4 linked regions of the Homo sapiens genome follow. The protein of the gene in region 4 purifies or fractionates together with the protein of the main gene of each other region. This does not show direct contact. Each region holds a gene or a part of one and is shown on either strand. Other genes may lie near its edges. The genes, in order: ACSF2, ACSS1, LYRM7 and PPA2.

Region 1 (7,789 bases), on a different chromosome or scaffold from region 4:
AGTTCAAGGCTGCAGTGAGCTATGATTGCCCTACTGCACCACTCCAGCTCCAGCCCAAGTGAGAGTGAGACAGTCTCTTAAAAAAAAAAAAAAAAAAAAAGATAACTAAAAGATAATTTGACTCTACACAGCAGTTCAAATCAAGTTCCTTATTTTCACTTTCAGTTTGAGAGTTTGAGAATGAGAAACATCCGTGTTTAGAACAATTTTTATTAGCCTTTTTTTTTATATTGGCTACTGGATCTAATTGGCTTGATTAGCAGAATATACACATTCTGTTCCAAGTCATTTCAATATCTTTGAAAATTGAAACTTCCTTCCTCAACTTCCTCTCCCCTTTTCTTTCTGTGGCTGCCAGCGGTCTCTCTTTTTTTTCCACCTCTCCTTCATGATCACTGCATTTCTTATTAGACAGCTCAGTTCTCAAACACACAGTGAAGGAAATTCTTTAAAAGGGCCATTTTTTATTTACTACTTGGAGACAGTCAATTACAACAGAGAGCTATGAAAAATTACACCAGAGAAAAGGGATTTGCTCAAGGTCATTGACAGAAAAAGCACTAGGGCTGGATTCTTTCCAGATCTGACACTGAAGTTGATTCCAAGCCTAAGTAACCTCTTTGCACTCATTTTTTTTACAGTGAAAACCTCATCAAACACATTAGTTCCTGTAACTGATTGAAGCCTCCCTCAGGCATGTTAATAAAAAATTTTATTAAGAGAAATAATATACACCATCTTAGAAAATAATATAAGAAAACAGCTTTTTTTTTTTTTTTTTTTTTTTCCGAGACTGAGTCTTGCTCTGTCGCCCAGGCTGGAGTGCAATGGTGCCACCTTGGCTCACTGCAAGCTCTGCCTCCCGGGTTCACGCCATTCCCCTGCCTCAGCCTCCTGGGTAGCTGGGACTACAGGCGCCCGCCACCACGCCTGGCTAATTTTTTATATTTTTAGTAGAGACAGGGTTTCACTGTGTTAGCCAGGATGGTCTAGATCTCCTGACCTCATGATCCGCCTGACTCGGCCTCCCAAAGTGCTGGGATTACAGGTGTGAGCCACCGCACCAGGCCAAAAAGAGCTTTTTTAACAAAAGCCTGTTCTCTGCCCTCACTCTTCCTCCCACTGCTATGCCCCAAAGAAAAGCTTTTTTAAAAGTTGTGGAAAAATAGACATAAATAAAATATATCATTTTAGCCATTTTTAAGGTTATGGTTCAGTGGCATTAAGTATATTCACATTGGTATACAACCATTACCACCATTCATCTCCAAAAACCTTTCACCTTCCTAAACTGAAACTCTATACCCATTAAACAAATAATAACTCCCCATTCCCCCACCACACCCCCAACCCCTGGCAACCACCATTCCACTTTGTCTCTAAGAATTTGACTACTCTAGGTGTCGCATATGAATGGAATCATACAGTATTTATTCTTTTGTGTTTGGCTTATTTCACTTAGCACAATGTGTTCAAAGTTCATGTGGACTGTAGCATGTGTGGGAATTTCCTTCCTTTTTTGAAAGCTGAATAGTATTCCATTGTATGGATCTACTGCATTTGTTTATCCATTCAATCATTGATGAATATTTGGGTTGTGTCTGTCTTTTGGCTATTGGGAACAATTCTGTTGTGAACATTGGTACACAAATGTTTGTTGGAGTCCCGACTTTCAATTATTTTGGGTATATACCCAGAAGTAGAATTGCTGGATCATATAACTCATTTTTAATTTTTTGAGGAAGCACCATACCATCCACTGTGGTGGCCCCATTTTACATTCCCACCACCCAATGCACACGTGTCCAGTCTCTCCACAACCCCACCAATACTTGTTATTTTCTGTTTTTTTGCGGGTGTTCTTTTTTTTTTTTTGAGACAGGGTCTTGCTCTGTCACCCAGGCAGGAGTGCAGTGGTGTGATCTCAGCTCACCGCAGCCTCAAACTCTTGGGGTCAATATATACATACATACATACATATATATATTTATTTGGTGAAATATCTATTTAAGTCCAAAGAGAATCATTTGAACTATTGTAACGATTTCTGATTTATCTTCTTCTGCTACTTGCCTCTAAATGACATACTTATTTTGCCAGTTTTAGATTTTCTGTTTGATAAATGGGTACTTGCACCCCATCTCTCCTCCCTAAGTGCTGGTACTATAGTTTTATTATTATTTTTGTACATAATGACATACCCTTTTTTTTTATTTTATACTCTCCCCCACCCCTTCCCTCTCAACTACTATCAGATGTAACTTCCAAAGTTAGTGATACTTACATTTACATTCTATTCTGTAACTGTGACTAGGTCTTCTGTAGGTTGATGTTATGAAAGAAAAAAAATCAATAAATGGTGTTTACATTTTGAGCCTGCTTTTGAAGCACAGAAGCAAGACATGGGCAAAGGGGCGGGAATAAGGGCTTTCTCATGGTAGCCAATGGCATGAGCCAAATTACAGGGACCATAAATCATGCAAGTCACATGCAGCATAAAGGAGATGTGATGGCTCAGGCAGAAGGCCCCTTGGGGAGCAACGGGGAATTTAATTGGTTAAAGGGAAGGGAAGGGAAGCTGGAGAGCCTGGATGGCCCACTGCCCTGCTCCCCACTTCCTTATACTAGCCAAAGAATGCGGGTCAACGTGATTCCCCCACCATGACTCACGGACTTCCACCAGCCGTCTTGACTTTCTCCCAGCCCTCCTCCCCATCCACAGAACCAGTGCCTACCAGGGCTTTGCACAAATAAAACAATTCTCCCTCCTAAAAAAGGTTTGCAATTCCTACACAGAGGAAGGTCTTAGAGTGAAGACACAAGAGGAAGGAGAGGATGGAAAAAGAAACAATCACTGAAAACTGGCCGACTACCAGTTCTGTGCCACCTACTCAATTCTTACCCAGCCCTCTGCGTGAAGTTGGTATTATTATCCCCATTTGACAGATAACGAGGCTGGAGAGGCCCCGTGACTTGCCCAAAGCCACAAAGAGACTACTGGCAGAGCTTTGGCCTATGTTTAAGAAGCTGAACCTCTTTGGGATTCAGTTTCTTCATCCATAAAAACAAAGACACATTCCAAGCCATGCCTGTTCCTTGCAGGGTGTTTGTGAGGGTCAGAGAAAATGTCCTTGAAGAGCCTGGCATGTACAAGATACCCTGAAACTGATGGCTATGATGCCACGGCCTGTGCACCTAGGAAGAGTCAGGAAAGCCCAGTGTCTTGAAAAGCCGAGGCTGGAGCAAAGTTCAAGGAGGAACTCACTTCTCTCCCACTCTAGGACTGACCCTCAAACTAGCCAGAAGAGTGGAAGGACCTACAAGATCAGTACCCACCCCACACTTCATAGGCCAAGAGAGGGACAGTGGTTTACCCAGGGTCACCCAGCATGCTAGAGGCTAAGCCTGCCAGCCACGGCTGGGAACCCAGACTTGTGAATGCCCCAGCCCTCCACATTCCCTGGTCCGCTATCAAAGACAGTTAGTCTAATTAGGAAAGCACACCCTTGCAGGCCCAGCCTCCGGTGATCTCTTTGTTCCTCTGTCTCTTCCTGCCCCAACCCCACAGAAACTGAAGTGTGGGGACCCTCCCTAGGAACCGGGGTTCCAGGGAGGATTTGAGGTCACGCTCAAGATCATAAAGAGGCCCAGCATGGACTCCTTCTCATGACCCAAGTGGAGCCAGAGTTCCCAGATAAGGGCAAAGGTCACCTCAGGCCAGGCTCCACTCTCAGCCACCCCTTCTGCCTGGCAGGGTTTACTTCATCTCCTCCAGTCAGGAGAGGGGAGGTCACACTGCCAGGGCCTTTGCCCCATTCTTCTCCAGCTCCTTCTCTAGAGGAAGAGTCATGGCTAGGCCGAGGCAGTGTGGACCTGGAACAGGTATAAACTGTGCTACTCTTTGGTGCCCAGTGCCACTTTTCCTAGCCAGGACCAGAGCTATCACCTTCTCTGTCCCGCAGCTCTGCCCAGGTCTTAGTACCCCACTCACCCCTGGGCCTCAGGAACCCTAAGGAGGGGCATAGGGTTGCTTTCCATTCACACCTGGGGCAGCACAGGGAACTGTGCCACAGGCCCCAAGACAGGCAGATGGAGGATGAAATACACAGGTCCCAGTCCCTGAGGCCACCTTACGTGTCCGGCCCCCAACCCTGTGCAGAAGGTCAAGGCAGAGGCGCCGAGGAGGGATGGGAGGATGCCTCCTGTGAGATGGGGTACAACTGGTGTTCCTTCTGAAGCTGACATCTGGCCTCAGCTGGGACTCTGGCGCCAGCGGGCCCGCAGGGGGCTCACCCGCGACACCCTTTGTTCTGGCTGCCTCCCCAACCCCGCGGGGCCCTCTGCTCCAGCTGGCATGCCTCAAGGACGCTTCGCGCCTGCTCCTTTGGCCCCCGGCTCGCAAGTAGCGGGGCCAGCACGTGACCCGAGGGGGCAGGGGATGGATGGATCTTGACCTTGCCATCTGGCCCCTCACGGATGTGCTGCTGGCTCTCCCTCTAGGAAATCAACAAATTTTTGCGCTTCTAACATCCAGGCCCCTGAGGATGGTCGCGAGGAAGATCTGTTTCGGACTGCAGCTGGGGCCTTCGGATCCAGAGGAAACCAGGGCTATTCTTCGAGGGTGGGAGGGGGAGGGCCGCGGGGTCGGAGGGGAAGGTGGCCCCGCGCGAAGTCGCCGCCGCCGCGCCCCGCCCCGCCCCGCCGGCGGAGACCGAATCCGCCGCACCCCATAGGCAGAGGCCACCCTCCCCGCCTCCCCGCCCGCTGCGCGCCCGCCCCGCCCCGGCTCACTTTAAAAGTTTACTCGGGCCGGGACGCAGGGCAAAGCGAGCCATGGCTGTCTACGTCGGGATGCTGCGCCTGGGGAGGCTGTGCGCCGGGAGCTCGGGGGTGCTGGGGGCCCGGGCCGCCCTCTCTCGGAGTTGGCAGGAAGCCAGGTTGCAGGGTGTCCGCTTCCTCAGGTACTGGCCCCCCGCGGGAAGAGAGGGGGCGGGGCAGTTCCCCGGGAGAGGAACTTGGAGGTCCCGGCGAGCTTCGGAAGCCCCACCTCTGGACGAGTGCACTGGGGGGAAGGTACCCGCCCCTCCCCCGCCCCCCGCCAGCACCTAGGCAATAGGAAAAGCTGGCTTGGCCTGGTGGACTTGGGTGGGGAGGGGGCTTTGGTTGGTGGCTGCAGTGACTTCGAGTTCTGGTCCAAGACTCTCGATTCCTTCTCCTTTATGGGCACAGAGGGCAAGGAGTGTGGGCTTTAAGGAGAATATTCCGATGGGGAGGGGCAAGGGCCAAGGCCTGGGCTGTACCCCCAGGACACTGCCTCTGAGTTGGAACCCCTTCATGGGCAAACTTGGGGATCAGCCCCAGTCTCCCCGACCCAGGCCACTAAACTTAGCAGTCTCCTGTCTCCTCATCAGCTGCTCACTAACATGGCTTTAATTCTTTGCTGCCTACTCCTGGGCCTATTTCCTTCTGTCCTCAGTGCAAGGGGTGGGATGGAAGCTGGCAGGCAGAGGATTTCAGTTCCCAGTAGCTTCACTGCCTCTGCAGCAGCACAGTAAGTAAAGCTGCCTTCCCGGTGTGACCAGTCCTTGGGAGGACCCCGTGAGATGGCAAATGTGAAAGTGCTTGAGACACAGAGAGCAGGCTGCCACTCATGTTATCAGGGCTGTTAGCTTCAGCAGCACCACTGGGGAGCCCTGTGCACTACTGAGCCTGTCCTACCACTCAACTCGGCCAGATACTAAGTCTATGGTCAGGACAGCACTTTCAGCAACATCAGATGGGGTGTGGGCCTGGACATGGAAAAGGGAGAAGTCAGAACAAAGCTGTGTCTCAGAGAACTAGATTTGTTTTTGTTTTTAAAAAGGCTAAGTAGGAAGAGTTGGAGGGACATGCAGACTCCTTTTTGGCTAGAACTCCAAGATCACACTTTCTGAACTTGCTGATTTCTGAATGCTAGAAAGCATGCAATGCCTTAACATCACTCTGCCTAATTTGCTGAGAAAACTAAGTGGATCAAGGCTGGTCAGTAGATGGGATTGAGATGAGGACAGTGGGGTCCTCTTCCCAGTGACCCTGGGAAGTCACTCACTACTTCCCAGGGTCTCCCTAGACAAGTTCGGCCCTCCCCTGACCCCCTAGTCTCTTAAGCCTCTCCTCTGGACTCATGGCTGCCCCCTCAGGCTGGGAGGACTCTGAGGAAAGTTACTTCCCAAAGTGTACATATTTTATCACACTAAATCAGGCCACAGGGGAAGTCTCTCAGCCTACTCTGGCTCAGGAGGCTGCCCAATAGAAAACAAACAAACAAACCAATAAATAAGTAATAAATCAGGCCACATGGCAACATTTCTGACCTTTGACTTTTTTTTATCTATAAACAAAACAGGTCACTTACCTGCTACAGCCCTGGGACCTCTGAGAGCACCAAGCTTCAGAGAAATTCTTATTGCTGTGTCAGGAGGAGACTCATTTATCCAGACAGATGATTTTCTGAGTGTTTGGCCTACTTTCTTTCTGCCCCTTCCACTCCCTTGTGCCTGCACCCTTATTGTCTGACTGTGATGGTTTTACCTGATTTCTCTCCTACTTTCCCCTTCAGAAGCCTCAGGGCTCAGGCCAGGCAAGGTGGTTTATGCCTGTAATCTCAGCACTTTGGAAAGCAGAGGTGGTAGGATCACTTGAGCCCAGGAGTTCAAGGCTGCATTGAGCCGTCATCATGCCACTGCACTCTAGCCTGAGCAGCAGAGCAAAACCTAGACTCAAAAAATAAAAATAAAGGCTGGGTGGGTGGCTCATGCCTGTAATCCCAGCACTTTGGGAAGCCCAGGCAGGCAGATCACTTGAAGTCAGGAGACCGGTTTGGCCAACATGGTGAAACCCCGTTTCTACTAAAAATACAAAAATCAGCCGGGCGTGGTGGCATGTGCCTGTAATACCAGCTACTAGGGTGTCTGAGGCAGGAGAATTGCTCCAACCTGGGAGGCGGTGGTTGTAGTGAGCCAAGACTGCACCTCTGCACTCCAGCCTGGGTGACAGAGGGAGACTCCATGTCAAAAATAAATAAATAAAAATAAAGGCCAAGCATGGTGGCTTATGCCTGTAATCCCAGCACTTTGGGAGGCTGAGGTGGGCGGATCACTTGAGGTCAGGAGTTAGATCAGACTGGCCAACATGGAGAAACCCCATCTCTACTAAAAATATAAAATTAGCCTGGCGTGGTGGCACATGCCTGTAATCCCAGCTACTTGGGAGGCTGAGGCAGGAGAATTACTTGAACCTGGGAAGCGGAGGTTGCACTGAGCTGAGATTGCACCACTGCACTCCAGTCTGGGTGACAGAGAAAGACTTCATCTCAAAAAAATAAAAATAAAAATGAAAAAAGAAGCCTCAGGGCTGAAACCATCAGCAAACATTCCTGAGAACAGATTCTGCGTCATGCTAGCACATGCTGTGCATATAGAGGCCACAGAACTCAGTCCTCACCCTGCCAGGAACTTGCAGCCTCGTAGGAGGAGAAATAAATCAAGGTGAGCACTATTCGGTGTTGCAAGTGCCATGGTGAGGAATGCGCTTGGACTTTCGTCCTCTGTTTTCTCCGATCTGCTCACACACAGCCTGCTTTCCTGTTGCCCAACACCCAGGCCTATTACTTACCAGACCCTGGTTTTGCCTGAGAGAAAAGAGCAAGGGCTTTGAAGTTAGACTATCCTGGATGACAGCCCTGGGTCCTCTCCCTGTTGGTTGTATGACCTCGGGCATGTTATCTAACCTCTGAGCTAGTTAGTTCATT
Region 2 (7,320 bases), on a different chromosome or scaffold from region 4:
GCAGGAGCTATGAAGGCAAATGGCGAAGGCCGTGTTGGTGGGCTCTGTCCCTAAAGCTGTTAAATTAAGATGCTCTGGACGCTATGGCTCTGCTACCTACTAGCTGGTGGCCTCGGGTGAGCTTCTGTCCTCCTGCTTATTTTCACACATGTACAGCAAGGGCAAGAGCATTCACTGCTGCAGGTTGTAGGGTCAGTAGTCACAGCTGTGTTGGCATTTCTGGCCTAAACATTAGTACCGAGACAGAAGCGAATCCCGGATTCCCAAGAACCCTGCCCTCTAAGCACTTCGTGTGTCTGCAGCCCCTGCCTGACAGCATCCAGCGTTCCAAGTGAGCTCTCCTGAAGTTGAGGCCAGCGGCTTCTTAGGGAGAAGATGTGACCAGCACTGCCCAGATAGCCTGCTGCCCTGTCCAAACCTCTGAGGGTCCTTCGGGATGCAGGGCCAAGAGTGGGTGCTCCTTGTGCTTGTTCAATCTTGTGCTTGTTCTGCAAGAGTTGATGACTGGCTGCCAGGAGGGAGGCAGTGGGGACGACCTTGGCCTGGGCTGTGACACTCAGAAGGAAGGTCTCAAGGCCACCTCTAGGTAACTCGGGCAGCAAGAAGTGCAGTTCTGCACCACCTGGTTGGTTCTGACATGTTTGGTTCTGAAATGATCACTTCTTCTTATCCAACCAGAAGGAACGAGGTAGCATTTATTTTAAAACAGAGTTAGTTCTACCTACTTTTCTCATTGCAACTGTAGAAGACCTTAGAAACGAAGGTAGTAGGAAGAAGGAGCCATTGCCGTGCACTCTCCATGGGGTGGCTGTTGGTGCCAGGCCCAGTCACAAGCAGCATAGCTGGTCTCTTCTCTCACAGGGCTCCCTCCTGGTAGGAGGACTAGGAAGATAAACACAGAGCTAATAAGTAACAGCCATGGAGAAAAGTCAAGTCAGGGGTTGAGACTAGGGAATGAGGGCGGAGGTATAACTTTATGTAGGTGACAGGGAAGAAAGGGCTCTTGGATGAAGGGATGTTTGAAGACACCTGAAGGAGGTGAGGGGGAGTCTCTGTGGACAACTGGGTGGAGCATTCCAGGCAGAAGGGACATCGTGTGGCAGTCCTGAGGTGGGAGCCTGCTGGGTGATGGGAAGGACAGGAGGAGGCTGATGTGCTGGAGCCCCAATGAGTGAGAGCAGAGGAAGAGGGTACACTGGATCAGGGAGGGCAACGCTTCTCTAACGTGAATGTGCATGCAGCTCCCCTGGGGCTTAAGATGCAGATTCTGAGGCAGCAGGTCTGAGATGGAGCCTGGCATTCTGCATTTCTACAAAGTATCCAAGTGATGCTGCTGGCCCATGGACCACACGTTAAGTAGTGAGGCTATGGCCTGTGGGCCAGGGAATGATGTGGTCTTTGTTTTGAGGAGACTGGGGAGCCTTTGGATTGTTCCAAGCTCCAGAGCAAGTTCCTCTGACTCTTGTTTTAAAGGAATTGCACTGGCTGCTGGTTAGGCTGTCAGGGGCAAGGGTGAAAGCAATTTGAAGCCTACTGAATAATCCTAAAAGAGATAGGTATGGTTAGGATGGTAGCAGGAGGGGATGGTGATGGGGGAAGAGGTTAGTGCTGCAGGTGTTCTGAAGGTGAGTCACAGGATTTGCTGACAGGCTGCATGTGGAGTGTGAGGGGGAGGAATCTAGGATGACAAGGGTATGAGCCCAAACAACAGGAAAATGCCATTTCCATTCACTGACATGGAAGATCCGTGTTGTGGGGAAGAATCCCAGGACTTGGTATGTTTCAGATGTGAATGAGACATTTGAATACAGGACTGAGATGTGGAGGAAAGGTCCAGGCGGGAGGTGTCAATATGAAAGTGAGAGGCTAGAGAGCTGGCTGCTGTTTCCTAGGGGGCAGGGGAGAAAGGGGGATTTGAGGGCTGAGCTCCTGGGCACTTCAACACTTGGAAGGCAGAGAGAAGAAAGGCACCCAGTACAGGGCACTGAGAGGCAATAGTCAGTGAGTGAAAGAACCATGCATTTTTCAGCCTCAGTTGTTGTATCAGTTACCACTGCTGAGTTACAAACCATCCCAAAATTTAGTGGCTTAAATTTATTCCTTCTACAATTCTGTAAGTGGACTGGGAGGTTCCTTTGCATCCCAGGTGTTATCTGGGGTGACTCATGAGGCTGCCTTGGCTGGGACAGGAGCCTCCACATTGGCGTCATTCTTGTCTGGGAGTTGGTCCTGGCTGTGGATGGGACAGCTTCATCCTCGCCCTGGGTCCCTTCCTCTGGAAGGCCAGCCCCGCTTCCTCACAGCTCGCAGCTGGGTTCCATGGGAGGATAAGCTGGGGCTACGGGGTCTCTCAGGACCTCCACATGGAACTGTCACAGCATCCCTCCCACCAGGCTGTACTGGCCAAAGCAATCCAGCCAGCCAGGGTCCTCCTCTGGACAGAGCAGCACACCATCATGTGCAGGCGGTGCAGGCGTGGGAAGGAAGAGTTGGTGGCCGTCTTTGGGACCCCCTGCCACAGTTAGGAGCTTTCTCAGTTTACAATTTTACTACTCACTGACCTCTGCCTCTCAGTGCCCTGTACTGGGTGTCTTTAATATTCTATTCAAATGAACTTAGGCCAACGAGCTCCCCACTGGGGGCACTGGGTGTTAGTCTTGCTCTTCCCTTAGCCAGCTGCATGCTCTTTAGTAAGTCCTTTTATTTATTTGGGCTCAGTTTCCTCATTTTTTCCACCTGGAGTTTGACAGTTGGTGGGAATGGACAGCACTAGATAAGTTTCAAATTAAGTAGACTAGTCGGGTGCCGTGGCACACGCTTGTAGTTCCAGATACTCAGGAGGCCGAGTCAGGAGGATCGCTTGAGCTCAGGAGTTCCAGGCTGTAGTGAGCTGTGATGGGAACCATTGCACTCCAGCCTGGGCTACAGGCCCTATCTCTAAAAAAGTATCATAAATAAATAAAGGAGAAAATGCAGGTCAAGCGCTAGCACTGTGCAGGGCATGTGTTATGCTAGTAGATGTCACTGATTCTCCAGCTCTAGGTACACTCCTGTCTTCTCTGGCAGACAGCAGCATTCCCCAGCAGGGGCTGGTGGCTAGCCCACGCAGAGGCTCCTCCAATGGCAGGCTCCTCCCCTCTGCAAGCCCTACAGCTCAAGGGAAAGAAACTTTCCCATCACAGAGAACTCAATAAACCAGTTTTCCAAAATCTCTCTTCCCTGTGTTTACCCGTTTGTTATGAATTTACTTCTTGGGTGTCAGAATATTTAAGAACTCGGTGGAGACCAGTTTTATACGTTTCCTTCTGTCCTTCCTGGCTCCACAGCTGCAAAAACATCATCCCCACTACTGAGCTTACTATGGGGCCACGCAAGGGTAGACGCTTGACAGACATTGTCCAATGTATTCCTTACTGCAGCTGCCCACCCCCGCCGTCCCCGCCCCCCAGGGAGACATTACTTCCGTCTTCCCCAAAAGGAAAACGAGGCACCGAGAAGTTAAGGAACTTGCTCAAGGTCACAGAGTTTGAACTCAGGCTACAGATGCTGCAGCAACTGGAGAAAGTCCTCATCGCCCCATATCACCCACCACCGACCCCCAGCAGGACGTGACCCCCGCCAGGACGGAGGCCGGCAGCTGGGGGGCTGGAGCATGGGACCCAGAACACGGACTCAGGCTTGCGCAGCCTCCTGGCTTCTAGGCGGGAGCCTAGAAAGGCGCCAGCCCCTTTCGCGTGCTGCTGAGACTCCAGGGGTGGGGTTCACTCTCAGGGGCGCACAAAGGCATGAAAACCTTGGCTTCAGCCTCTGAGATGCGGAACTGACCGACCTATTGTCTTGGGACCCACCAGTGCGCTTGGGTGCACCAGCCCCCTTAACGTTGGTGCCGGCTCCCTCCCGGCTCCTCCCCATCCCAGAGGGTCCCCTCGCCCCAGGCCCTGAGCCTGCGTCCTGGGGTCCTGGGCCGCACGTGCCTCTGGCAGCTCGAAGAAGCTGTCGGGGCTTGCAGGAGAGCGTGCAAACTGAAACCAAAACAGGCCGACTCGAGGAACATCCGGGTGGGACCGCAGACTCACCGGAGCGCAGCGCCTGGGCCAGGGCCTGGGACCCTGCTCCGCCCCGCGCTCCCCTGCACCCCTTCCCCACGCTGCTCCCCTCTTCCTAAGCGGCCCCCCCTCTCCCGGGCAGCAGAAGAAGGGGTGGGACCCGGGCGGGCTCCGGGAGGGGGCCCTGGAGGAATGGATGGTGGCGGAAGGGCGGAGCAGGGGCGGGGCCCGCGGAGACTCCACGGGGCGCCCCGGGCGTGAGGCACCCACTCTGGGAGCACAGAGAGCTCAGGTAGCCTGCCTAGATGGCGGCGCGCACCCTGGGCCGCGGCGTCGGGAGGCTGCTGGGCAGCCTGCGAGGGCTCTCGGGGCAGCCCGCGCGGCCGCCGTGCGGGGTGAGCGCGCCGCGCAGGGCGGCCTCGGGACCCTCGGGCAGCGCTCCCGCAGTTGCAGCAGCAGCAGCACAGCCAGGCTCGTATCCCGCGCTGAGTGCACAGGCAGCCCGGGAGCCGGCCGCCTTCTGGGGGCCTCTGGCGCGGGACACTCTCGTGTGGGACACCCCCTACCACACCGTCTGGGACTGCGACTTCAGCACTGGCAAGATCGGCTGGTTCCTGGGAGGCCAGTTAAATGTCTCTGGTGAGTGGGCTTCGGGAGACCCAGGACGCCCCCAACTCTTGGGTCCCGAGGGGACTCGGAGCCTCTCGCCAGCGGCAGCCGTCCCCGGGCAGCGCGGATCGCAGCCCTGCAGGGGCCCCTCCTCCGGTATTCCGTCCGCCCCGCCCGCTCTAAGCAGTGGCTCCACGTCACCCCGTCCCTCATCCCATCGGGCCCCAGATCCACGTGCCCAGCTCGGGCCGGCGCCCGCGGGGACCCGGCGGCCGCTTGGGACGCCCCGCTGCTGGCCTTGCTCGGCGCGGCTCCTCGCTCGGCGGACTCCAGAGTTGCGTTACCGGGTGCATAGCGCCGCTGAGCAAGAGCCGGCGGGGAGCCGCGGGCTACACCCGAGCGCCCCGGAGTCGGGACTTTCCCGTTCCCATACCGGGGTGGAGGGAAAAACAAAGCGGTGGCGGTTGTCACTGCGGGCTGCGGTGCCCGGGGATCAGCCTGGGGACAAGCCCTGCCCACGTAAACAAACAGAGCTGTGGCGGGCGACCTGGGGAGGAGGAAACTCGGCGTGGCAGCTGGAACCAGTTATTTCTTCGCTGCGGGCCTGGGGCCTGGGGCCTGTGGACGGGAAGGAAGTAACGGCGGCCTCCCCGTTCTCGTTCTCGGCCTCAGAGAACTGCACCCCAGCGACCTGGGGCCTGCTTTGGACCCGCGGGGTCTGACGTCGGCCCCAAACAGTTGACTGGTGGTCAGTTGTTTGGAACTTGCTGAGCAGAGGCCCTGCTGCTCTGCTAAGATTTGGGGCTGGGGGTCGTACACAGCACCCTCGCCCCCACCTAAGGCGCTGACTGGGCACCGAGGGGGAGGCCCTGAACTGCAGGCAGGGCTGGCCACGCAGGGTGGGTGCCAAGTGCGAGGTGGGCTCCGGATGCAGGGTGGGCCTGGGTGTGGGGCCTGCGGGGAGGGGCTGGCAGACACGGTGTTGATCAGAGGGATGCAGACCAGAAGGGTGGTCATAACCAGCTTGCTGGATTTGGGAGTGTTTAAGAAAGGACCTGCGGGTCTTTATGGCAGGGTCACCAGGGCCCCATTTTCTCCAACTCCTCCCTCAGTTGTCCTTGTTGTTCTGCCCCCCCAGCCCTCAGTCTCCTCATTGTGAGGATGGGGGCAGTCATGCTCAGAGGTTAGGCTGAGTGCTGCAAGGTGTGCAGCAGACCCAGCGCTTACTGGTGACCCATAAGCAGTAGCGATTTTAGATAACTTCAGAAATAGTCATACAATTATAGATAGTGTCTTGCAGTTATTTTTCAAAGAAATTGGAAGGAACTTTGGACCTCCCCCACTCCCCGAAATTGTATATTACTTTGCTGGTTTAATTAAAATGAGTCACTTACTAGATAAGTGTTTTCTTTAACATTGAGTCAGCAGCAAGTGCCCTTGAACTAGTGGGAAAAAAACCAAACCCTTTGGTTTGCAGAGTTGGGGCAATGTGCCCTTGAAGGAGACTAGAGCAGCTTGCCCAAGGACAGAGGTGGAAAGTGACCTGCTCTGGACTTGTGAGGCCAAGGTCATGGGGAACATTCACAGTTGGCCTGTGCACACTTGCAGCCCCACTCAGATAAGACAGTGGGGCGGACCTCCTGGGGCCAACAGCAAGGACCTTCTGAACCTCGCTCGGTCAGGATCAGGGTGTGGTCAGCAAGCATTCTTCTGTCTCCTTTTCCTTCACTTATTTCTTCTGATAATATGGCCTTTATGGCTACGTTAGCCAGAAATTGAGCTTCAGAAAACTAACTTGAAAAACAGCTTTTCAGCAGCTTTCTCCCCTGGGATGTGCGTGCCCTCCTGTTCATGGGTCAGCAATATCTCTTTCCTTTGCCGGTGTCTGCAAACCATAGAGAAGACAGTATGAAAAAGGGCCAGGCCAGGCCATGACTCTTCTGGGAGCATCTAGAAAGTCGTGGGATGGATGAGAACACTTTGGTCTGATCTGTCAGCTGTGTGTGATAAAGTCAGATGGCTTGTTCCAAAGGAATATCACTCTTGAAGAAAGCTTCACCTCACCCCCTCAAGAATACCAGTGGTTCTCAACGCATGGTCTTCAGACCTGCAGCATCAGCATTACCTGAGAACTTTTGAGAAATACAAATTCTGGAGCCCATCCTGGACATCTGGAATCAGAAACCCTGGGATGGGACCTGACACCTGTGTTTATAACGAGCCCTTCAGATGCTCCAGAGGACACTCGGGCTTGAGAACCACTGGCCTGTACGCCTCAAACCAGGGCAGATGAAGGCACTTCTAAAACAGAATTGGGATTAGTGTCCTGGCCTTGGCCCTATTAAACAAACAGCAAGCAAATGATGGGCTGTGGATGGCGCAACACAGTTTCGTGGCTCCAGGTGTCTTTAGAATCATGACTCGGGTTGATTTCTTGCTTTCCCTGTACTGTACTTTGCATGTTTCCTCATCTGTAAAACAAGGGCCGTATGTAACTGAATTCTGTCCTAGTTACTATTGATGTACATCAAACCACCCCTAAGTTTAGTGACACAAGATAACAACAATTTTATATTCCTCGCAGAGTCTGTGAGTCAGGACTTTGGACAGGGCCCGATGGGGATGACTCATGTCAAAGGGCAAAATTAGGACAAATTTAGTTTAA
Region 3 (7,031 bases), on a different chromosome or scaffold from region 4:
AAAGACCAACAGTTAAAGCTTTTATAGTCCACTTCCTGGTGATATGAGTTAGGCAAAATAAAATTGGCCGGGATCGCTGGCTCACACCTGTTATCCCGGCACTTTGGGAGGCTGAGGTGGGCAGATCACCTGAGGTCAGGAGTTTGAGACCAGCCCCCTGGCCAACATGGTGAAACCCCGTCTCTACTGAAAAATATAAAAATTAGCCAGGCATGGTGGTGGGCGCCTGTAATCCCAGCTACTCGGGAGGCTGAGGCAGGAGAATTGCTTGAACATGGGAGGCAGAGGTTGCAGTGAGCCGAGATCACAGCCACTGCACTCCAGCCTGGGCGACAGACAGAGCAAGGTTCTGTCTCAAAAAATAATAATAATGATAAATAAAATTGAAAAAGAGGTTGAATGCAGATTAAGCTAGCCCACAAAGCAGAGATAGAAAAAAGTATTACTTTGCTAAAAGGCACAATTCTGTCTACAGCCTAGAGTCTAATTGATTAAGAGTCCCATAATTTAGAGCCTTGGAGAGTTAAAAATGCTAATTGTTCTTATCCACTAAAACTAAAGCCAGTACAAGCAGGGAAATTCTGAGCTGTAACATGAAATAAGATCGATGCCTCAAGACTTTCTCATTCTTCCAGACAAAGATTAGATATATGATTCATTTACTGACTGGAACTTACTATTCTTCATTGCTTTAAGAAGTGGCCCCTAAGGTAAGGGTTAAGGAGATGGGCAGAACGTAGAGGCTGCTACCAAAGGATGACAGTCTTCATCCTTATTTTTCTGTGGCTACTTGTGCATGGAAATGACTGGAAACCAATTTGAAGCTTATAAAGTTTTTGAGTGAATTGTATTGCCAAGAAACTCCAGGCCTGGCTAGCTCTTTTCACCTCTTAAGGCCACCCCTGGGCCCCTAAACTCCTATCACCAGGAAGTAGACTATGAAAGCTTTTAAAGCCCCAAAGAAGGGCATCTTCCCCAGTATCTCCACCTTAGAACAATGAGGCTCAGCAGGACCTAATGGAAACACTAGCACTGTAACCAAACATCCTTGATTTCAGTCTAGATGAGACCTGAGGGGACAGGTAGTGAGTGGATGTATGCTACAGATGGAAAGAAGGATTTATATGCATTTTGCATAGCCAAAGGGGTTGTGCTTGTTGCCTCTCCAGTATCTATTCTCCTGTTCTTTTTTTTTTTTTTTTTTGGAGATAGAGTGTCCTTCTGTCGCTCAGGCTGGAGTGCAGTGGCACGATCTTGGCTCACTGCAACCTCAGCCTCCCGGGTTCAAGCGATTCTCATGCCTCACACCTCCTGAATAGCTGGGACTACCGCTCGGGCAATCCAACCACCTCGGCCTCCTAAAGTACTAGGAGTATAGGTGTGAACCACCGTGCTTGGCTTCTCCTGTTCTTTTTTACTAACTGAGAAATTGTGTTCAGGGTGCAATGTACCAAGCAAAAAAAAAGTTATTTTCCAGACCATGTGACACCTTTCTGGTCTATATAAACCGTGTCTATTCGGTGTTACTTCCAAGAAAGTCATTGTTTTCCTGTTTAAAAGGAGCAGGCTGAGCTGGCACTCTCCTTTTGCCCTTTTCTCTCTTCTTCCCATCTGGAGTGCAGATGTGATATGACAAGCAGCAGTGAAGACAAAACCACTCATGGAAGGTAGCAGAACAGGAAGAGAGAAAGAGCCTGGGTCCTTAGTATCACTAAGGACAAGCACTAGCCCAGAACTGCCTTAATCTGTATTTCTTTTTTTTTTTTTCCGAGATGGAGTCTAGCTCTGTCGCCCAGGCTGAAGTACAGTGGCACGATCTCGGCTCACTGCAACCTCTGCCTTTGGGTTCAAGCGATTCTCCTGCCTCAGCCTCCCTGGTAGCTGGTGCCTGCCACCACGCCCAGCTAATTTTTGTATTTTTAGTAGAGACAGGGTTTCACTGTGTTGGCCAGGCTGGTCTCGAACTCCTGACTTTGTGATCCGCCCACCTCGGCCTCCCAAAGTGCTGTGATTACAAGCATGAGCCACCATGCCTGTCCTTTAATCTGTATTTATTGATAATGTGAGAAAAATTAAATCTCTTACTTATTTAAACCAGCTTTTGGACTTTGGTTATTCAGAACTGAACATACTCTAAAGTGATATGGGTATATTTAACCATTTATTTTTCCATTCTCCCATAAAAGTCTTGTTCCACTTTTGTAACACATGACATTATACTATAATTTGTTGTTTATCTAGCTATCTTTTCCATTAGATTGTGAGTTTCTGGAAGCTGAAGAGACTATTATATATTCACCTTCATATCTTAATTTCTTGATGTAATGTCTAGCATGAAATAGGCACATATAGGTTTGATAAGTGAAACAAATTATTGCCATTGTTAACAAGTTAAAATGCACACTACAATTTATTCTCTGATGAAATCTCCATAGGTTTGGTAAAAGCAAGTGAGATATAAACAATGGTTAAATAATACTTATTTAACTGGTTTTCATTTCAGTAAGCCAAATTTATCATCTGGCTAATAAGAGCACTATTCTTAGTCAGACCAGTTCTTTCTTAATTAAGTGAAATATTCAGTTTGCCTTTTGGGTTGAATTTGTTTTAGTGTTGTCTTCTGTCTTTTTTTTTTTTTTTTTTTTTTGAGAGAGAGAGTCTGTCTCCCAGGCTGGAGTGCAGTAGCATAATTATTGCTCACTGTAATCTCAAACTCCTGGGCTCAAGCAATCCTCCTGCCTCAGCCTCTTGAGTAGCTAGGAATACAGGTGTGCACCACCATGCCTAGCTAATTTTTAAACAATTTTTTGTAGAGACAGAGTCTCGCTGTGTTTCCCAAGCTGGTCTCAAACTCCTGGCCTCAAGCAATCTTCCCACCTCAGCTTCCCAAAGTGCCAGAATTACAGGCATGAGCCGCTGCATCTGGCCACTGTGTGTGTGTGTGTGTGTGTGTGTGTGTGTGTGTGTGTAAATATATATATTTTTAAAACCTTTTTATTTTGAAATAATTCAGATTTACAAAAAAAGTGCAAAAGTTGAAGGGTATGAGAATTTCCTTTACCCAGATTCTACAAATGCTAACATTTTACCATATTTGCCTTATTGTGTTTCCCTCATTTTTTTTTCCTGAACTTTCTGAGAGTAAGTTGCAGACATAATGCCTATTTACCCCAAATGAACATTTTTAGAATTATGACAGCCCATTTGGGTCTAGATCTCCTGGAGAAATACCTTAGAGTATATTTTTTTAAGATACTTCAGTGTGTATTTCCTAAATATACAAGGACATTCTCTAATGTAACTGCAATATAATGACCAAAACCAGGGTATTAATATTGATGCAATGCTATCATTTAATCTTTCCATTTGTCCTAATAATGTATTTTATGGCAAAAGGAAAAAAAATTCCCTGTGGACCAGTATCCTATTGGGGATCACACATTGCATGTAGTCATCATGTCTCTTTAGGTATCCTTAATCTAGAGCAGTCCTTCAGTCTTTCTTCGTCTTTCATGTCCATGATGTTTTGAAAAGTATAGGCAGGTTATTTTGTAGAAGGTCGTGCAAGCATTTTTTGATTGATAGCTCATCTAGGTTCAGCTCTTCTGGAGAAAAGAAGAAGAAATCAATGTATCTCCTCAAAAATTTGGAATTTTTTTTTTTTGAGGTGGACTGCCACTGTGTCCCCCAGGCTGGAGTGCAGTGGCACCATCTCGGCTCACTCACTGCAACCTCCGCCTCCCATGTTCAAGCGATTCTTGTGCCTCATTCTCCTGAGTAGCTGGGATTACAGGCATGCACCACCACACCCAGCTGATTTTTTTTTTTTTTTTCAGTAGAGATGGGGTTTCACCATGTTAGTCAGGCTAGTTTCCAACTCTAGACCTCAAATGATCATCCCTCCTTAGCCTCCCAAAGTTCTAGGATTACAGCCGTGAGTCACCACACCCGGCCAAAAATTTGTATCTTAAGAGCTTTATCTTAACTCCAGCAAGATGTCTTACCTAGGACTCAACAGGTTTTTGTTGTTGTTTTATGATATTTCTCAATGTGGGCACTATTGGCATTTTTGACAGGACAGTTCTTCACTATGCCAGACTGTTCCACCCATTACAGAAGGTTTAGCATCCCTGGCTCCTGCCCACTAAATTCCAGTAGCATTCTCCAGTTGATATGACCACACAAAACACCCTCTTTTAAGAACAATTGTTATTTAAAATTTAGAATCTTTAAATTAGGAGACCAGTCTTGCTTTTCATATAGTAGATAGTATAAGCAAAATTTCCAGTTGTTTTCATTATCAGTAATTGGTAATTAAATGACCAATAATAGAAGTTTTAGCTGAATTCTCTTCAGTTATTTGATTTGCTATATTTAATGATAAAGGGTTAAGTGGATCATATATGTTTTTATATAATCTGAAATGAGAATGCTATTAATTCTAATTAGAGTCAAGGATGCCACCTTAGATATCAACTGAAATAAAATATCCCTGGAAGATTTATCTTAAAACTGGATATTTTACTATTTTAAATTTTAGGGGGAAATGAGTGTCCTTGCATTTAATTCTAATTTTAGTGATGTTAATTATTCTCTTTTTTTTTTTTCTTTCAGAACTGGTCCCTAGGAAAGACCTTCTTGTAGAAAATGTGCCATATTGTGATGCACCAACTCAGAAGCAATGAGTTTTCTAGAATACAACAAGTCTTTGTACTTTTTAACTTTAAAATCTACAACTCTGGCAAAAGTCCTGGAAATGCAGACATTTTCCCTGAACTGGCATATTGAAAATGAATGAATTACAGAATAGCTTCATATTTAAATTTCATGTTAAAAGGTCATTACTGAGAACTAAAGAACATAATTAAGTATTTCTAAAGGAAATTAGATAAGAAAACATTTCATTTTCATTGAAAATCAAATTTCATAAAGCAAAGTAAATGCTTAGGGAGATATATTCAATCTTTGACCTTGATGAGTATTTGATCTTACCATAGCTATTTGAGAATGTGGTGCTTTTACAAATTGGTGAGTTTTCCTGCCATGTGAAATGCAATTATTACATTTAAATTGTTAGATTAAAATGATATTTAGTCCTGAAAAATATTAAATTGGTCAAAAAAATCACAGTGTATGCCAGCTCTCTACAGAAAGTGGCCTTTGTTTTCTAAAGCACTGGGATTATTTCTGTAGCTAATATATAATTGTACAGTTTCTTTTTAGAGATAGAGAGTATCTCTGTGTTCTTATGAAGACATTTTTTATCAGTTTTCTGAAAATAGATGAATAAAATATTATAGTCACCTAGGGTCACTATGGAATAAAGAAATCCTAGTTTAAAGAGGAAATAGTGGCCCTTGATCAAACTATTTAATATGGCCTTAGTAGAATTAGCTGTATTTAGACAAAGTTAGACTTTAGTGTGAAATGTAATCGGTGGCTACATTCTCATCGTTTTAATTAATGAAACTTAAATGGCTTCTCTTCTTCCACATGTCCTGTCCTTGACAAGATGGGCAGTATCACAAAAGGTCCTGGCATTCTACCATCTAACACTAGGAACTGTAAAATACTGTTTAATATTCTTCTTGTTTCTCTTTTATCTGTGTATCTTTGCCATTCTATTTTCTCAGTGAATAGTATGTTTTCTCCCATTCACTGATAAATTCTCTCATTTGATGATGATACAGGGTTTTTAATTTTTGCAAGATTCTCAATGCAAGCATTGTTATGTATCTAGAAATTATACCTAGAGAAAAATGAAAGTCGTTTCAAATTTGAAATTTGCCCTTTTAAGAGAATGCTGAATGTCATCGCAGTATATAATCACTATATAAATGTGCTGACTTACAGTTATTTTAGTGTCTATATGACATATTTTGAGGAAAGTTGGCTGACGTTATTTAAATTTAATATATATTCTATATTTTAGTGTTATTGAATATTTTATCACTGAGCTTTTTTCTTTAACCTGAATTCCCTGTTCCATTTTTCATTCATATTAATTTAAATAACTCCAGATTTCTTTCTTATAGTCATTATTAGTAGCAGATGAGATTAATAATTCACATGTTTATTAAAGATAGTGGCTTAGAAATTTTAAGATATATTGATATAGGCCCGGGCGCTGTGGCTCACACCTGTAATCCCGCACTTTGGGAGGCTGAGGCGGGCAGATCACAAGGTCAGGAGTTCGAGACCAGCCTGGCCAATGTGGTGAAACCCCATCTCTACTAAAAACACAAAAATTAGCCAGGTATGGTGGCGGGCGCCTGTAGTCCCAGCTACTCGGGAGGCTGAGGCAGGAAAATCACTTGAACCCGGGAGGTGGAGGTTGCAGTGAACTGAGATTGTGCCACTGCACTCCAGCCTGGGGGACAGAGTGAGACTCTGTCTCAAAAAAAAAAAAGAAAAAAAAAGGAAAAAGGAAAAAAAAAAGATATATTGATACAGATAGGTAGATATGATATTGTACTTTCATGCCATAAGACTACACAATAAAGTTCCTGAAAGTTCCTGGCTGGGCGCAGTGGCTCACGCCTGTAATCCCAGCACTTTGGGAGGCCGAGGCAGGCAGATCACCTGAGGTCAGGAGTTCTAGACCAGCCTGACCAACATGGGGAAACCCTGTCTCTACTAAAAAAAATACAGAATTAGCCAGGTGTGGTGGCACATGTCTGTAATCCCAGCTACTCGGGAGACTGAGGCAGGAGAATTGCTTGAACCCAGGAGACGGAGGTTGCAGTGAGCCGAGATCGCACCATTGCACTCCAGCCTAGGCAACAAGAGTGAAACTCCGTCTCAAAAATAAATAAATAAATAAAGTTCCTGTGAAGTATATAAACATGTCAACAACAGGCTTGACTGTCACAAAATTCTGAAAGATGTCGCACTCTATTCTTATATAGCATATGCTAATTTATTTATTTATTTTTTGAGATTGAGTTCTGCTGTGTCACCCAGGTTGGAGTGCAGTGGCATGGTCATGGTCCACTAAAGCCTTGACCCCTGGGGCTCAGCAGTTATGCCAA
Region 4 (7,031 bases):
CACTTCCCATTTTATTACTTTTTTGAAGAAGAATTTGCCTATTTAAGTTCTGGAAAATTCGGATGTAACTTCTCCAAAAACTGAACCACAGAGTACTTATTTCTCAGAACATTTGTTAACATCTTAGTGACATCAGGGTTATGATTTCTGCAACTTCCAGAAGCAACTGTGCTGTAACAGTTCTAAACTAATAGTCAAACCACTTAAGTTGTAGTCCTGACTTTACCGTCTTGGACAAGTCACTCGACTGAATTAACCAGAGGCATCCCTTACCTTCAGATGACATCCGGTAGCTCAGTTTCTCCGTAAATAAAATGGGGATAGCACTAGTAATTTTATAGAATTGCTGTGGCAGTTAAATGAGACTATGTGTGTAATTATCAGTGTCTCACACGTGATAGGTATTTAATAAATGTTATTTATTTTTCCCTTTTGACTTTAAGACATTAGACTAAAATCCTTATTATTAGATTCTGTGAAGGGAGAAAATAAGGTGATGTGATTGATTATTTTGAAGTGTTCCTGTTAATTTATAGGTTTCAGAAGGTTTTTTGTTGTTGTTGTTTATTCATTTTATTTTTATTTTTTTGGTTTGTTTGTTTGTTTAGAGATGGGGTCTCATACTTTTGCCCAAGCTGGAGCACAGTGTGCAATCACGACTCACAGCAGCCTTGACTTCCCCAGCTCAAGCGATCCTCTCACCTCTGTCTCCTGGGTAGCTGGGACTACAGGCATGCACCACTGTGCCCGGCTTCCTAGGTCTTAAAGTTTTAATGGGTACTTGCAGTCTTTTAAATTAACTGTGAAATCATAATGAAGTTAGACTCACTTATATTGAGCCAAAGACCTAATGCTGCATGCCAGTATTCCTTTGATATCTTGCGTGTTTTTGTTTGTTTTGTTTCGTTAATAACTTGAAATTTTATTTTAGATTTCATACTGTTCTCATAGGATAGGGAAAAGCTATGCTTTCCATAATTAGGAATTTTGTTATTATGGGATAGGCAACTGGTTTACTTAGAGAAATAGTGCTGTGGATAATTCAAGTTGCTTTTATTTAGTCTGGGAATGAACCAAGCAGTTCTTTAAAATTAATTTGCTTTGTCACTTATAGTAAGCATGTGCTTGTGTTGAAATTACTGTAGGTTTTCTTTATGTCATTTGGGTAGTAGGAGGAATCTGCCATTGAAAGTGCTGTATCTTTGGACTTAAAAGAGAACTTCCCGTGAATAATCCACAAAATTTGTTTGAGTCTTAAATATGAGTTTCTGTAACTTTTTAAAGTTGGCCTATATCATAGAACTTCAACTGATATAATGGAACACAATGGGTTTTGTGTGAATATAGAAAAAGTATTTTATTTGATTTTTCAGTCCTTAAAACCTTAAACGTTTTCTATATCAGTGCTGTGAAATAGGAATTGTGTGATCTATATGGAACAGAGGAAGCATTTTTATTGAAGTTTTTAGGCTCCTTTACATTTCTTAATCTTTTTATCAGAAAATAAAACAAAGTTAGCTTTAGTCATTGCTGAAGCTTCCAGTAAGAATCTCTATAAGTGGTTTTGTAGTCGTGTGTAATCATATGTTGGTATATGGCATACATTTAGCTGTCTGGTATAGATACATAAAATTAGGTATGGTTTTCACATTCCATTCAATTTTCTCACTTGCTCTAGTGTAAGTAATAAACTTTCATCCTGATACAACTTGCTCTTGTGAGAGAAAGAATCACATAGATAACTTAGAAAATGCTAGAATAAAATCTGATTTCAGACCAGTTGAAGGGAGAATTTTGACCACTGTTTGGCAATATCGTGTAGATTGATGGGCCTGATAGAGGTTAGCAATTAATGCCTAAGGACACAATCTGATTTTTGACGACAGTGAAATACCATGGCAAAAATGACACAGTGACTACAATCATTTATCTCTTTTCCCCTATAATAAATATCCTATTAAAGTGATAGTAAGTGAGGATAAGAAAGGGTAACCCTAAAACAACAGATAAGGAGCCACCAAAGCTTGAGATTTTGAAATATGTATAAAAGATTAAAAAACCAATGGAGATATGGTTATTAATGAAGCAGTGTGGAAGAAGTCCCAGCTTAAGTATATGTGTTCAGGGGACGTAGTTTAGGGAAAAGCCGAGCTGCTGCAGAACCTCAGAGAGGTTGTGGGTGTGTTGATATAAGATAGGATAGAGAGTTAGATGGATGTAGAACTTAACACAGGGGGATTAGTTTAAGTTGTACTACAAATAGTACACAAATGTTTCCCATGCAGGTCTAATGCATGAGGGTTGTGTTAGTTCCAACTGTAAAAGTGAATGAAGAGCTGAGAGGGAAGTAGGACCCCTGATGGTGTTGGTGCCCCAGCAGTACTCTGCATGCTGGTATTTGGGGACCCCAGCATAACAGCCAGCCTCCTACCCATTCATCTCTGTGGGAACACAGAGTTCCCAGTGATTTTTTCTAGTCTTTTTAATATAAACCAAATAGTCAAGGATCACCTAACTTAGGCTTTCATCGCTACTGTTCTACCAACTGCTTTTTGTCAGGGCTACCTGTCACCTCCATGCTGCGACCTTAATGGTCAGTTTGAAGTCCTCATATGACCTATCAGCAGTACTTTTTACAGTTCATCACTTTCTCTTTGAAACACTTTTTTTGTCTTTCCCAGAGGAAACTGCTTTCCTCTGGGATGCACTTTGTCTTAGTTTTGATGCTTCTCCTTCACATTCTCCCTTGCTGAACCTTTGTCATATTTCCGAACTCTAGCCTTTGAAATGCCCAGGGCTCAATCCTCAGCCCACTTCTCTATCTATACTGCCTCTCTAGGGCAGGTGTTGGCAAAGTTTTCTGTAAAGGGCCGGATAAGGAATACTTTAGGTTTTGCGAACCATTCAGTCTCTGTCACAACTACTCAGCTCTGCCATTGTAACATACAGCCATGGACAGTAAAAGTATGACTGTGGTTATGTTCCAATAAAACTATATTTACAAAAATAAAACCAGGCCATGTGACAGATTTGGCCCATAAAGCCAGAGTTTGCTGACCATTGCTGTTGCTCTGGGTGATCCCATCAGGTCCCATAGTGTTAGACGCTGTTTATGATTCCCCAATTTATAACATTAGCCGCATCTCTTCTTGAACTCAGAATTTACACATCCAGCTTTCTACTCTGTATTTCTACCTAAATGTTTAAGATACAACTCAAGATTAACAGCACAAAACAGAACTCCTGACTCCCCACCCTCACCGAACTTGTTTCTCTCTTTAGTTGCTAACCCATAACCTGGGCATTCTTCTTGTCACCTTTTACTCTTATCCCACAGCTAACTCATTAGCATATTTTTTTGAAATGTACCAAAAGACAATTCCTTCTGTCCACTTCCACCCTTCTCACTTTCTGTTTCACCATCATCTTTCCCTTGATCAGTTGTAACCTCCTGATTCTTCACCCTGCTTCCACCCTTAGCCCTGTATAGTCTACTTTCCATACAGCAATCACCTTCATCCTTTTAAAATGTAAGTCAGATAATGTACAAGCTCTGCTGAAAATGCCAGTGGCTTTCCATTTCACTCAAAAAATTTTTTGAAATATGTACCATAGCATGTAAGGTCCTACTGGATCTAATACTGGGCTCCTCTCTGAATTCATTGCTTGCCACTTTTCCTTTTGATCAGTGTCCTCCTGCCATCCTGGCCTCCTTGCTGTTTCTCAGACATGCCATGTATGTTCTTTCCTCTGCACACCTGTGCTTTTTATGCCTTCAGTGCTCCTCCCTAGAGGTCTACTTGATCTCTTCCCTCACTTCATTCAGATCTGTGCTGAACTGTTACCCACCAGAGAGATCTTCCCTGACCATTCAATATCAAATATTACTCCTTCTGTTACAGTAGGTAGCTAGTCAGGCATGAGCAGGGCAGAAGAGGGCTCCCCTCCCTCAACACACACCAGGAATGACAGGCAAACATCAGGTGATGGTCAGGCAGTTGTTAACTGTTTCTCTAAAATATTAATTGGTTGCAGCCTGCACCAGGGAAAGGCAGTCTCCAAATAAACAGAAGCACCTGAAGCTGGTGATCAGCAGCTTCCCATGAGATCTCAGGAACTGGGTGAGTGGGCTCAAGCGTTTGCACTAAGAGGCAAAATGGCAGAGTTTGGTATGTGACCTCCTAGGGACATTCGACTGGTAAGGGAAGAACACCTCAAGTGAACACGCGTACAACTCCAGTAAACACGTTGCACATGGTCCCTTTCCCAAGTGCTGGGAGGCTACTGTGTGTGCAGACAGCCTGCCCCAAGGGAAGAATCAGGGGAGATGGGACACAAGATCCTGGAAGTATGCTAACATATAAAACCCCAAGTTGAAAGGTCAAACCGTGCATTTGTCTTTTCAAGTTGCCCACTTTGCCCTCTTCCAAGTGTACCTTCCTTCCCTTTGTTCCTGCTCTAAAGCCTTTTATTATAATAAACTGATTCCATCTGTAAAATTGCCTCAGCCTCTCCTTCTGCCTTCTGCCCCTCAGTTGAATTCTTTCTTCTGAGGAGGCAAGAATTGAGATTGTTGCAGAGCCATAGGGATTTGCCATTGGTAACGCTTCCATTATTCATTCTTCACTTTCCCTAATTTGTTTTCCTTTATCTTTATAGTGCTTATGATATGTGATAGAATAAACACATAATCATTGCTTCTGCACCCCAACTAGAATGTGATTTCCATAGGAACAGGGAATTGGAATTTGTATCTAGTATCTAGAACCATGCTTAGTACAGTGCATATATTCAAGAAATATTTACTGAATGAATTTAAGGAAAACTTAAAAATTAAATGGGAAAAACAAGAAACTTGAATTTTAGAAGGTCAAGTGGGTGTTCTCTATTACATCTGCTATAAAAAAAAGGAAGAGTTGGCTGTGAAGAAATGGCAATCAAGACCAAGACCTCTTTAGCAAATAACTTGTTAAAACAAGTAAGTCAGTAGAAGGTGTAGTGGGTTGAATGGTGTTCTGAGACACGAAGTTTGTGGTAGTTTCTTGCAGCAGTCCTAAGAAAAAGAATATAGATGAATTAGAAGATAAGGTAAATCTATCAGAAAGTAGAACAAAATGTCAGAGATAGAAAAAGGAGGCAAGAAGAAGTGACGTAGAGATTGAATCCAGAAAGTCCAACATTTGACTCATATGGGTTTCAGAAGGAAAGAACAGACAAAATGGAGAAGAAATTGTAAAAGGGATAATAGAAAAAAATCTAAGAATTGAAGGACCCAAGTTTTCTGACCCCCCCAGTCACATTATTATACAGCTATTGAGAGGATCCCACATGTCTTGCTGGGGGGTGGTCAGCTAACAGGCCTGCAACACTGAATGCTCGAAGACTGGAGTAATGCCTTTGAAATTCTGAGAGAAAAGAGTTTTCCTCCTAGAATTTTCTACCCAGCCAGCTGTCAATCTGGAGTGAGAACAGAGTAAAGACATTTTAGACATTTAACAACTTGAGAAATTGGCCTCACATGCAATCCTTCTTACAGAACACTTATTAGGGATATGCTTCTGCAAGACAAGTAAACCAAAAAAACGTGAATGCATGGGATCCAGAAAATGATAGATCTACACTGGAGAGCAAAGAAGCAGTCTTAGGATGCCCGGAAAGCATCCAGTTCATATTGCAGCCTGAGGATAGAGGGTTCCTGAAGGAGCTGTTTGGGTAAAGAGAGGATTCCATAATTTTGATGATATCCGTGAGGCATTGGAATAACTTATAGACGTGATTATGACAATGTAAGAAAGATAATTAGAAACACGAAGAAAAATAGAAGCTGAACCAAAAAAGGAAATTTAATTATAGCAGCATCCTCACCAAAAATAAACACATAGACAACGCTTCTCACACACCTGAGTGTAAGAATTATTTGGGATGTTTGCTAAAAATACAGATATTCATTTCTCCCTCCTTGAGATTTTGATTCACTAGATGTGGGATGGTGGTTCAGGGATCTGCATTTTAATGAGCATTCCAGGTTTTTCTTATCTAAGAGAAATTTTTGATATATATAATAGGAAATGCATAGAAAATTCAGTATGATTACAGAACATTCTATCAGCCTTGATATGAAAAAATAAATATGCAGAAGACAAAAATTAGAAGAATGAGGAAAGGGAGGTAAAAGTCAGGTTATTGATGTTAAGAAATACTGTATATTTGTATTAGTTTGTTTTCATGCAGCTGATAAAGACATACCTGAGACTGGGTGATTTACAAAAGAAAGAGGTTTATTGGACTTACAGTTCCACATGGCTGGGGAGGCCTCACAATCATGGCCGAAGGTGAAGGGCATGTATCATATGGTGGCAGACAAGAGAGCTAGTGCAGGGAAACTCCCCCGTATATAATCATCAGATCTCATGAGATTTACTCACTGTCACAAGAACAAGACTTGCCCCCATGATTCAATTATCTCCCACCAGGATTCCTCCCACAACATGTGGGAATTCAAGATGAGATTTGGGTGGGGACACAGCCAAACCATATCATTCTGCCCCTGGCCCCTCTCAAATCTCATGTCCTCACATTTCAAAACCAACATGCCTTCCCAACAGTCCCCCAAAGTCTTAACTCATTTCAACATTAACTCAGAAGTCCGCAGTCCACAGTCTCATCTGAGACAAGGCAAGTCCCTTCTACCTATGAGCCTGTAAAATCAAAAGCAAGTTAGTTACTTCTTAGATACAATGGGGGCACAGGTATTGGGTAAATAAAACATTCCAAATGGGAGAAATTGGCCAAAACAAAGGGGCTACAGGCCCCATACAAGTCCAGAATCCAGCAGAGCAGTCAAATATTAAAGCTCCAAATGATCTCCTTTGATTCCATGTGTCTCACACCCAGGTCACGCCGATGCAAGAGGTGGGTTCCTGTGGTCTTGGGCAGCTCTGCCCCTGTGGCTTTGCAGGGTATAGTCCCCCTCCTTGCTGCTTTCATGGGCTGGATTGAATGTCTGTGGCTTTTCTGGGTGCATGGTGGAA

What was found.
Region 1: the proteins of PPA2 (region 4) and ACSF2 purify together in Homo sapiens (affinity purification with mass spectrometry; 2 studies listed by BioGRID and IntAct, with this or other methods). This does not show direct contact.
Region 2: the proteins of PPA2 (region 4) and ACSS1 purify together in Homo sapiens (affinity purification with mass spectrometry; 3 studies listed by BioGRID and IntAct, with this or other methods). This does not show direct contact.
Region 3: the proteins of PPA2 (region 4) and LYRM7 purify together in Homo sapiens (affinity purification with mass spectrometry; 3 studies listed by BioGRID and IntAct, with this or other methods). This does not show direct contact.

What each region holds. Positions count from the first base shown.
Region 1 is NC_000017.11:50,421,429-50,429,217, forward strand, and holds the start of ACSF2 (medium-chain acyl-CoA ligase ACSF2, mitochondrial isoform 2 precursor), read left to right. Parts: upstream 1-4,789; 5' UTR 4,790-4,833; coding exon 4,834-4,961; intron 4,962-5,476; coding exon of another isoform or gene 5,477-5,551; intron 5,552-7,789. UniProt on the Homo sapiens protein: Acyl-CoA synthases catalyze the initial reaction in fatty acid metabolism, by forming a thioester with CoA. Has some preference toward medium-chain substrates. Plays a role in adipocyte differentiation.
Region 2 is NC_000020.11:25,055,134-25,062,453, reverse strand, and holds the start of ACSS1 (acetyl-coenzyme A synthetase 2-like, mitochondrial isoform 1 precursor), read left to right. Parts: upstream 1-4,314; 5' UTR 4,315-4,351; coding exon 4,352-4,685; intron 4,686-7,320. UniProt on the Homo sapiens protein: Catalyzes the synthesis of acetyl-CoA from short-chain fatty acids. Acetate is the preferred substrate. Can also utilize propionate with a much lower affinity. Provides acetyl-CoA that is utilized mainly for oxidation under ketogenic conditions.
Region 3 is NC_000005.10:131,194,917-131,201,947, forward strand, and holds part of LYRM7 (complex III assembly factor LYRM7), read left to right. Parts: intron 1-4,614; coding exon 4,615-4,685; 3' UTR 4,686-7,031.
Region 4 is NC_000004.12:105,464,061-105,471,091, reverse strand, and holds part of PPA2 (inorganic pyrophosphatase 2, mitochondrial isoform 1 precursor), read left to right. Parts: intron 1-7,031.